Linked DNA regions of Homo sapiens: region 1 is linked to region 2. Evidence: fine-mapped expression QTL. A gene starts in region 2. The other region holds a variant in brackets. All regions are shown on one strand. Distances are from middle to middle. Region 1 has its middle 160 kb from the start of CDKN2B. Region 2 holds the start of CDKN2B (cyclin dependent kinase inhibitor 2B).

Evidence for each region. PIP is the estimated chance that this variant, and not a neighbour inherited with it, causes the effect. A credible set is the group of variants that fine-mapping cannot tell apart.
Region 1: its variant is the best candidate, but not a certain one, in a credible set for the expression of CDKN2B in whole blood (TOPMed, PIP 0.73).

Annotation. Positions count from the first base shown.
Region 1 is chr9:22,167,334-22,172,725 of GRCh38, forward strand. No RefSeq gene overlaps it. Among named protein-coding and RNA genes, the nearest start is that of CDKN2B, 160 kb to the left of the region's middle. The variant C/T (reference allele first, on the strand shown) is at 2,192.
Region 2 is chr9:22,006,247-22,011,638 of GRCh38, forward strand. CDKN2B (cyclin dependent kinase inhibitor 2B) reads right to left here and starts at 3,059. Exons shown (of 2, transcript NM_004936.4): 1 at 2,552-3,059; 2 at 1. The coding sequence starts at 2,707. All of the region lies in intron 1 of CDKN2B-AS1 (CDKN2B and CDKN2A antisense cis and trans regulatory RNA 1), which reads left to right. RefSeq lists silencers at 2,401-2,600, 4,724-5,018.

The sequences.
Region 1 (5,392 bases), 160 kb after region 2:
AACAAAAAAATAAAAACCTCAAAGAACTTCATGTCTTTGACTTATAATGCTCCTTCCTTAAATATACTCTATGATTTTAGTTGAAATTTCAAACAAACAACAACAAAATATAAATATATAATGTACATATATTTGTATTTTGATATTTTAAAAAAGCTTTTTATTATTGACATTTTCCATCAACATAAAAGTAGAAAGAGTATTATAATAAATCTCTATGTACTCACTACCCAGTTTTGAAAATTGTTAATATTTTTCTAGTCTTATTTTATCTATTTTATTCTCTCTCTCTACAGGATTACCTTAAAGCAAATCCAAAGCTTCTTATTATTTTATTTGTAAGCTCTCTGTATAATAAAAGCTTTAAAAAGTAACCAAAGGCTATTATTAAGTTTAAGAGAATTGAACAAGTTTAGGCTCAAATTTCTCAATTGTCTCAAGAATGTCTTTTTTACAACTGTTTTGTTCACATTAGAATCCAAACAAGGTCTACATATTGCATGTGGTATTCATATGGCCTCTTAAGTTTCTTTCAATGTATAACAGTTTCCCCTTCCCTCTTTCTCCTGTTACTTATTTGATAAATAAATTAAGTATTTTGTCCTGTAGAATGTCTCGCATTCTAGATCTAGTTGATGGCTACTTTATGGTATCATTTGTTTTTTTCCTCCTGTATCACTCTTATTTTCCATCAGCTAGTATTTAAAGTGGAAGGATTGATTAGAGTCAGGCTCATTTCTATTTTTATTTTTTGGCAAGAATACTTTATATCTGAGATTCTGTACTCCTGTTGTACGACACCAGAAGGCATGTAACTTCTGGTTACTCCACTTTTAGTGATGTTAAGATTTATTAGTAGGTTCTGGTGAGTCCTCCATTATCGAGGTCCTCACTGAAATTTTACCTAATGGTTATAACATTCATTAGTGACTGTTTCCTAGATCTATAATTTCATTAAGATTTATAAAATGGTATTTTTCTAACTCTGTTGATTATTTCACATTAATTAGATAGTAATTTTCTGTAAAGAAAATCTTTCTCTCTCCAACAATTTTTTACCCTAAAACAGTTCATGCTGAAAAAGCATGTATACACTTGTTTTTCCCCTCTATGAATCGATTTTCAGAATAATGAGTTGGTGACCTTGCAACCTCCATCTTGTTGGTTTATGATAGAGAAAACTGGTTAATAACATAAATGTCCAAAAATAGAAGATATATTGTGGTATGCCCATGCCGGAGAGCCATGTTGTAAATATTGTGCAGTCTTTAAGTTTCAAAGAATATTTAATAACACAGAAAAATATTCAGGATAAAGTGGAAGTAAAAAACCCCAGAATATGTACATAGTGTGATTCAAATGTTATCTAAAATATATGCATTGTAGAATGCTGTCTTAGCCTCAGACACTAACATGATTATCATAGGTTTGTAAGTTTTAGGGTCTTCCAACTTGAATCTTTGTTTTCTATAGGACCTTTTATAAAATACATGATTTTTGTCATTAAAAGAAAATGTAAATTTGTTTAAAAGGAAGGTCTCTGGATGGATCATCATACATGGAGAGATTCATGGGTGTTGATCTTTGCTCCCGCTTAATTTTTAATTTTTATTATAACTTTGAACCTTATCTCCTACATCTAAACCAGTCTTCATGGTGCTAACCGAGCAACTGGATGGATTGAAAACATGCTCAATTCTGTAGATTCTGAGACATCTTTTTAGTTAAACAGAACTCTTTCTGTTGACTCACATAATAAGAATATGGTCTTATTAAGTCATACTCATCTCAATTTGACCAGTTCAGAAAACAGATAACTGAATTACCTTTGTGTCTTTGTGTGTGTGTGTGTGTGTGTGTGTGTGTGTGTGTGTATTTTATCAGCTGATCCATTGATCCATATCAGATGAAGAAATGAACCACAGTCTCAAGATTCGGTCTTCCTGCTAGGGCCAGTTTGCTTGTTGCTGATGCAATGAGTGAAAGGAACTTTGCTTGTTGCTTAGTTTTATGATGAATGAAGGGAACAAACACACTGGTTTTTACTTTTATAAATTCCCAGTGATCCCCAAGAAAGTAACTGGATCCTCCAGGAAATCCCAGTGGCCTAGTTTCTATCAGTGTAAAATAAGGATCAGATGATATGACTCATAGGGCTGTTGCCAGCAGAATGTATGTAAAATTTCTGCCA[C/T]GATATTTAGCAATCAAAAAGTTTGCAACAAATGCTTGTTTTCTCTTCTCTCTTCCCAAAAATAAAAGGAAGCTGTCTTTTCCATTTTTACTATATTCTAATGTTAGAGAGCCAATTCTGGCATCAGACTGCCTAGATTCAAATCCAGCTCTACTCTTGGATTTGGGCAAGTGATATAAGTAAACTCTTTGTGACTCAGCTTTTAAATCTGAAAATTGGGATACTAATAGTGCCTACTTATAGACTGTTATGCATATTAAATGAGTTAGTGAATGTATAGTATTAAAACTTTTTCCTGGCATAAAATAGGAACTATAAGAGTATAAACTATTATCTTTTTTATCTGCCTAGTGGAAAAACATTTCCAAGCTCAAGGTTCAAGGCACCCCCTCCTTGGATGATGTAGGAGATGTACTCTGACCACTTCTTGTTTTTTACTTCTCTTTTTCTGGGTCCTATATAAACCTTCTTCTTTCTGTTGATGTATTTAATTCTTATAGCCACAAATTTAGATTTTGATAAATTAGATAAATGTTTTCTCCTGCATTATTAAGTGATTAGGATTATGTGAAGTTTGTCCCCTTTTCTTGTTGTCGTTGTAGTGGTCATGTGTGTGCCTAAGTGTCTGTGGGTGCCTGCATGTGTGAGTTGAGGTCCTGAAATATGGTATTACAGTCTCCCTGATAACTTAGGTGCAGTTGCAACTTTCCAGACATTTATTTTCTGACTAATCTTTCTTTTTGGTTAATTTCTACAGATTTTTGCTTCTGTCATGTGAAATTTTACTAGTATATTGCTCAAAAGGTAAACATGGCACTGTTCCTGGTAATGGGTGGGAATGGGATGACCTAACCTCTTCCAAATGTGTTTACAATAGAAGGATTATTAGATGAGTTTAGGAGAGGCTGCTGGATGGCTCAGAGATAGGGACAATCCACATGGATTCAAGGAAAATAATGCTTAGTTAGTATATGAGGAGCATGAGGTCCTAATGGAAGCATTACTTTCCAAATATAGGGACTGTATCAGAAAACGTTTCCTGCTCACAGTGAAATAAATAAATAGATCAAAAGTGGATATAATATACCCTCTAGGGCAGTAAGTTAAAATGATACCATAAAGTAAATTTTCAAAATGTGCTGCTGATGAGACCAAGATGGCCATCCTAATTAGTCATAGGCACCAAGGTGTTTCTCAAGTTCCCCCAAAGTGATCAGGGTGTGTGCCTTAGAAAAACAGAACAGTCATAGTTTAACACTCATATGATAATGTCATGTGGTTGAAACAGATCCAGTTATAGAAATGGAGTCTGGAAAAGTGAATGCCGATAAATAAAGCCTTTTCATCAGGCAGCCAGAAGTTCTCAGAATTCAAGGTAATTTGATTCTGAGGACAGGCCCCAGTTGACTGCATAGAAATAACTATCTAGGAAAAGGACAATTCATTCAGATACTCTACTCTATGGAAACGATTGATTAAGAGCATGCATGTCCAGCTGTTTTAATTCTGTGCTCACAAGGGCACAGACTGAGGTGCTGTTTGTTCTACTGATTGTTCATACCCAGCAGGAGAAAGTCATTTGTGCAAATGTCTGTTGATAGTGGTACTGTTAGTTGAACTTTCTATCTGGGGCAGATCACACAGGGCCTAGTTAGGCCACAGTAGCGATTTGGAGGGTTGGGAAGCCATTTGTGTATTTCAAAGGAGGAAGTGAGAGAAAAATGTGGTGCTATTTATAGATGTATAAAATGTGAAATTGGAAACATCATCTGCTTGAACTATTTTAAATTTAAAAAAGAGTCATTTGTTTTTCATTCACCAAAACTTTGGAAACCCTAAAATAGTGTGTGAATATACATGAATTGGCTTATGTGATTGAAGCCTGGAAATTCAGATAACAGTTGATATTGTAGTATTGAGCCTGAATTCCACAGGGCAAGAGGCTGGAGACTCAGCCAGGGTTTTTGTGTTGCAATCTTAAGGTGAATTTCTCCCTGTTCAGGAAACCTCAGTCTGTGCTGTTACAGCCTCCCACTGATTGGATGAGGCCCACCCACATTATGGAAGGCAACCTGCTTTACTCAAAGTCTACTAATTAAATGTTAATTGTATCTAAAAAATAGCATCACAGCAACATCTAGCCTGGTGTTTGACAAAACACTTGGCACCGTCAACTAGCCAGATTGACACAGAAAATTAACCATTCCAGATAATAAAGAATTTATGATATCACCCTCAGTTTAGAGGTGACTTTGTTAGCCAGGAAAGGCAATTGACTGTTTTTGTTTTAGGCCTGCAATCAGTAAGAGAGAGGACCGCTCTTCTTATCAGCTTCACACTTGGAAGGGGAGGCATAAGATAGCTAGAGCACTTTATAGCCCCTTGGAAGTCTAAGGTGATAAGCATGATTATTTGAACACAACCCTTTTTGTCCTATTATCACGCAACCTTTTTATTGTGTGATAAGTCAGTGATAAGGGCTGATGTCCCCTAACTTCATTATTGACATTAAAGAAACTTACTAATTGATGTTTTTATTAATTTGCTAATTAAAAAATGAATGCCTTCATTGCTAGTGAACAATCTTTTCTTCTTAGAAGGCAATATTTACAAAACCCATATGACCATGTTTAAAGAAGATGAAAAAGAATATTGGAATGAATTTTGGAAGGTCGTTAACAATTTTGTTTGAGGACAGAAAAGGGAGCGTTTCCTTCTTACTTTCTAGTTTTAGAAGTCTTTCCCTGTACATTGTGGAGTCATGGTGATAAATATACCATGGTTGGTGATAAATATACCATGGTTGGTGATAAATATACCAAACAACAGAGAAACCTAATATATATACAGCCCCAAGCTTATTAAATATCACCTAAGATTGACAAGAAAAAAACTAGTTTCTTAGAAAAAAATGGTATTTATTTACTTATTACTTTTTTTTTTCTTTTAAAGAGACAAGATCTTGTTCTATTGTCTGGGCTGGAGTATAGTGAAATGATCATAGCTCACTGTAGCCTCCAACTCCTTGGCTCAAATGATCCTCTCACCTCACCCTCCTGAGTTGCTGGGACTACAGCTGTGTGCCATCATATCCAGCTATATTTTTTATTTTTTGTAAAGGTGGAGTCTCACTATGTTGCCCAGGCTGGGCTTGAACTCCTGGGCTCAAGCGATCCTCCCACCTCAGCCTTCCAAGTAGCT
Region 2 (5,392 bases):
CCTGCCAGAGAGAGCAGAGTGGTCAGAGCCAGGGTGGGGGCAGGTATGGGAGATGCCGGCCGGGGCAAGGCAGGTGGAGCCATTTAAAGAAACACCTAATTGCAAAGTTTTCACCCAGTGCAGAGGTGTTCAGGTCTCTGATGTCTGGTGTTTCTTCATTTGCTGATGCAATCCACTTTCCCACCCCACCTTCAGGTTATACTCAGTACAAATTAAATGCCATTTTATTCTCTAAACGTGCAGAGACAAGAAAGTTGATGGTAAAGTGATGATCATCATTATGGAAAAACAAATCTTGATTTCCATTGGAACATGGGAATCTATTTTGTTAAATGATTTAGGGGCAGAGTTAAATTTATTCGGCTTTTAAAGTTTTAAATTATTTGCCTTGCTGACCCCTCCTCCATAATCCAGGTCTACAAATATTTATTAGGTAGTCAACTACTGTTTGTTAGAAGTTGGGAGTAATGGTTTAGGGGAGAAAATAAACAACTAAGTTTTTTTCTTTCTTTTTTTTTTAATTTATTTAGTTCTCATAGCAAATCCCGTGCGGAAGGCTTTTGTTTGTCATGTGTCTGAGCTCATAACTGGCTTGTAGTGTGATAATTTGAGCCAAAGTTGGAGATTAGAAGGGAAAAGTAAATTAAATCATGCAAAATCTTATAAAATTATAATAAATGATTTTTCCTTAACAGTTCATCATTTTAAATTTAGACTATAATATTTTTAATGTAATATAAAACTAACTATATTTGTATACTACAGGATTTTATAATAGCTAAGATTTAAAAATGTTAAACAGTAAATATTTTGCTATATAAAAAGAGCTTGGGCCAGGCCCAGTGGCTTATGCCTGTAATCCCAGCACTTTGGGAGGCCATAGCAGGCAGATCACCTGAGGTCAGGAGTTCGAGACCAGCCTGGCCAACATGGTGAAATCCCGTCTCTACTACAAAAAATAAAAAATTAGCTGGGCATGGTGGGGCGTGCCTGTAGTCCCAGCAACTCAGGAGGCTGAGGCAGGAGAATCGCTTGCATCCTGGAAGAGGTTGCAGTGAGCTGAGATTGTGCCACTGCACTCCAGCCTGTCCGACAGAGTGAGGCCTCATCTCAAAAAAAATAAAATAAATAAATAAATAAATAGAGCTTGGATGTTAGCAGTCAATCAGGATGATGCATAACTTAGAAAAAATGATGTTTTGCAGGAGTAATCCTGTAGCAGCCATTTGTGTACATGAACATTATGAAAACATTTGCTGTCATATTTAAAGTCAATTATAAGACAATTTTTGGTAACTAAATGTCTAAAATCGAGTTATTTGTTATGGGTTTATGCACTTTAAAATATACCATTTAATTGAAAGGCAGTATACTTCTCATGTTTTGTTGGCTTGTTTCATTAATATTAGAAATGTTCATTTCATCTCTTAAAAACCGTGATAAGTTATATCTACTAGTGATGTAAGGATATTTTACATAGAAAAAAAGGGGAAAATAGCTGCTGTTAGTATTTCAGAAAATGGTGAATTACATATATAACTTGTTTTTATAATTATTAATAAAATTTTAAGTTTTTAAGATGCACTTTACAATATTTTTGCTCCTTTAAAAATCCCTCATTTGTTATACCATTATTCTAAGAATTCAAAAGAAATGAACACTTCTTTAAAATCTATACTATTAACAAGATCCCTTAATATTAGCTTAGTTTTAGAGGGTGATAGTGAGGTGAGTACTGAATATGACCACTAGCCAACGGTAAAGTACAAAAGAGTTGTCCGAGATTGTAAAAGAAATAAAAAATATCAGTACTAATTAAAGCAGGATTCGTACTTAAACATTGAATAAGTGTATTTTAACAATGAAGATAAAGATGCATTATTTATGAAGATCCTTTGCCATTCAAAAAGGACCTAACAGTTGCTGCAGGAATATTTTTGTAATCTGGGCACTGAGTATGATAATTAAAGAATGAGAAACCTATAGAACTATATATTTTTTCTCTTATGCATCACTCATAAGACACTGCTAACATAAAAGGAACTAAGTACTGTGGTTGAGGAATCCCGTCTCATTCTCAATTAACCTCTATGAGAAAACAATACAACAGATTTCATATAGTAGCTTAGAAGTTTACATTGATTTTTTCCATGTACTATGATTTTGTAGAATTCCTTAAATCCAATCTAGAATGCGTAACTTATACTTTACTTATCTTTATCGTTGAAAGCAGACAGACAAGATAATCTTCTTCCCTAAATAAGCTTTCCTTTTCTCCTTTTCTCCCCAATTCAGTCTATTCCTTGCATCTCTGATCATGAGATGGCAGAACAAAAACCACTAAAAAAAGCTTAAACAGTGGGTTTTTCAATGTCTCTCTTTAGGATTTTTGCTGGGTAAAAGCCTGTTTTACGCGTGGAATGCACACCTCCGGCCAACGGAGACTCCTGTACAAATCTACATCGGCGATCTAGGTTCCAGCCCCGATCCGCCGAGGCCGCGCCCCGCGTTCGCGCGCCCCCTGCCGGCGAGGCCCTGGGGCCCCAGCTACCTGGATCGCGCGCCTCCCGAAACGGTTGACTCCGTTGGGATCCGCGCCGGCTTCCAGGAGCTGTCGCACCTTCTCCACTAGTCCCCGCGCCGCGGCGCTGGCCAGACCCTCATCGCTGCCGCCCCCACTGGGCATGCCCTTGTTCTCCTCGCGCATTCCGCAGCCCCCAGACGCGCAGCGGCCCGGATAATCCACCGTTGGCCGTAAACTTAACGACACTCTTCCCTTCTTTCCCACGCTGCTCCGGCGCACTCTCTCCTTCCTAGGAGACCTGGGCTCAGCTTCATTACCCTCCCGTCGTCCTTCTGCGGCTTGGGGCCCCGTGCAGTGGCCGAGCGGCCGGTCGTTAGCTCCGGGCTTTTCCTGGCGCTCAAGAACCAGCGGGCGCGCCTGGATTGCTTCTGGGAAAAAGCGCCTAGCGCGGACGCAGCCGAGCTCAAAGCCGCTCTGGCCGCAGGGTGCGGACGCGTCGCGGAGTCCTCACTGCCCCGCCTCGCTCTGGCAGAGTGGGGAGCCAGCCGGCAAAGAATTCCGTTTTCAGCTGGGCCAAGGGGCCGGCGTCTCCCCACCCCCTTAGGCTCCGCCCCCTGTCCGCTGTGATCGCCGGGAGGCCAGGCCCGGGCCGACGCGTCACGAGGGCGGGGAAGCCTGCCCAAAGATGCTAGGACGCATGCGCCAGAGACTGGGCCAGGGAGCCGCCAGGAATGCTGGCTGCACTGCTCGCTGGATGTCCAGTAAAGCCAAGGCTAATATTTTGGGAATGTTCACCACTGCCCTCAGCTCCTAATCCCCAGTAGGCGGAGCAGAGGATTTCTGTTCCTTCAGCCAGCCAGTTGGTTTCACTGTGGAGACGTTGGTGGCTCCCTTGTGACCGAGAGAAAGTCATTCAAAATAACTCCGTGTTTCTTAAGATGTCTGAAAGCGACAGCTCTGCACCTGTCATACAAGTTAAATTCATCCCCAGGCAGTACTTGGGCTTCACAAGTTTCATAACTTGTATCAAACTTAGCAATTTTCTCTTGGATGTGTCTTTCTGTTTGAATTAGTCAACCATAAAAATAGAGAAAAATCCCGAGAATCATGTTTTGCGTGTGCTTTTTAATTCTTTCCATTTTTGCATTATGGATACAACCCTTAAAAGAGAAAAAAACTAGTTCGAGATTGAGAGTGGCAACCTGGCACACATAAGACAAAAAAAAATTATACTTTAAGAATCTGAGATCCCAGTTTCATCATATTTGTACAGTAAATCTTTGTTTGCACTCTTACCTATTTAAACCCACTTTGTCAGGTATCTTATTTTTATTTATCATGAGTAATAAAGGAAATTTATGCAGTAATAATGAAACATCATAAGAGAGGGGTGTGGTGCTGGGCTTGTCATTAAACAGGCTGAACCTGTCATTAAATTCTCTTCTGAAGATTTAAATGCCAAGTGCTTTTTTTCCCCTTCCTAATCTTCCTAGGTGAGTTTGAATCAACATTTATTACTTAAAATATTTAAAACATTTCAGCGGATGCTACATTGGATAGGAAGAGAACCGCAAGTTATGGATTTGTTGCCTAAAAACTTTGGTGAGGAACTGCATAAGTGGACCTCTCCTAAAAGTGAACAATTTTTGTTTACAGAATCATTTTGGTTCGGAGTGCTGAGGAAGACAAAGTCTTAACAGGAGGGCAATTGCTTGTGTATTGCAAAATGAGAGTCTTCACATGTTTTTTTTAGGATACCTTAGCTCTGACTCCTCATCCCCCAAATCCCTGTAGAATTAAAAAAAGCTCTTTCTTTTAAAGGCAGTGGAAGTGCCACCACCATGGAAGTGCTGGTTAGGGCTGAAAATCTACTGACAGAGCCTCAACAGAGCTGAAATCCACCTGGACAGGGAAGGGAACCGGGTAGCATTAATAACAATTTCTTTTTCTTTCCCATCCAACCCCCATTTCCTAGTCTTCAGTTTCTTAATTTCTCTACCTTTTACTCTTATGCTCTTGTTTTGACCTTTGAGTTTCTCTGAAACTTATCAGAAAAGTTAGGACAAGATAGTCTGACCCAATTCTTGAGCCATTTTCTTAGGTAGTAAATATGTCAGAAAAATGAAAGCTGTTTGGAGTTGATAAGGAAATGGAAGATAATGTTTTTCTTTGAGGGGGACATAAAGAATGGTGATAGGGAAAGAACCAATGACTAAGTAAAATGACTGAGAATCTTGCACGAGGCAGATGTGTGAGCTTCGCGAAGCAAGTTGACTGAATGAAAAACAACTTTGGGTAGGGAAAACGTTGCCGGGGGCATTCGCGCTTACTAGCACCACGGACAGCGCTTTGCTTATACTCAGGCCTGGGTGGTCCTAACCAGCTCCAGACAGAATTCTAAAGCTTCACACTTGATCTTCCAAAGCCCCTTTTCTCCCGTCAAATAGAAAGGACATTATGGAAGCTCAATGAATTTCTTTGAAAAACCAACCTGCTCAACCTGGTTTTCAAATATGATTGGATTTTATCTAATATTCTCTGTATAAAGAATATTATATAGTCTATATTTAGAAGACGAGAAGAGAAATCAAACTTATTGTGTACTCTGTACGAAGTGCTTTACAGCTGTTGTTTCATTTAATACTCATAAAACTCCTCTGTGGCATGTGTCCATATTTCAATTTTACAGACAAGCCAAAAGGATCAGAGAATTTGAGTGACTTGTATACTAGCTAATCATTGTTGGAGGTGGGTATAACTTTTGCGACTTCAGAGTCTTTTTACCCTTTATACTACATAGTGTTTTTTTTAGCAGCTGTCATGGTAGGCTTAACTGGAAAAAAGTAATAAACTGGCTTATAATTATTT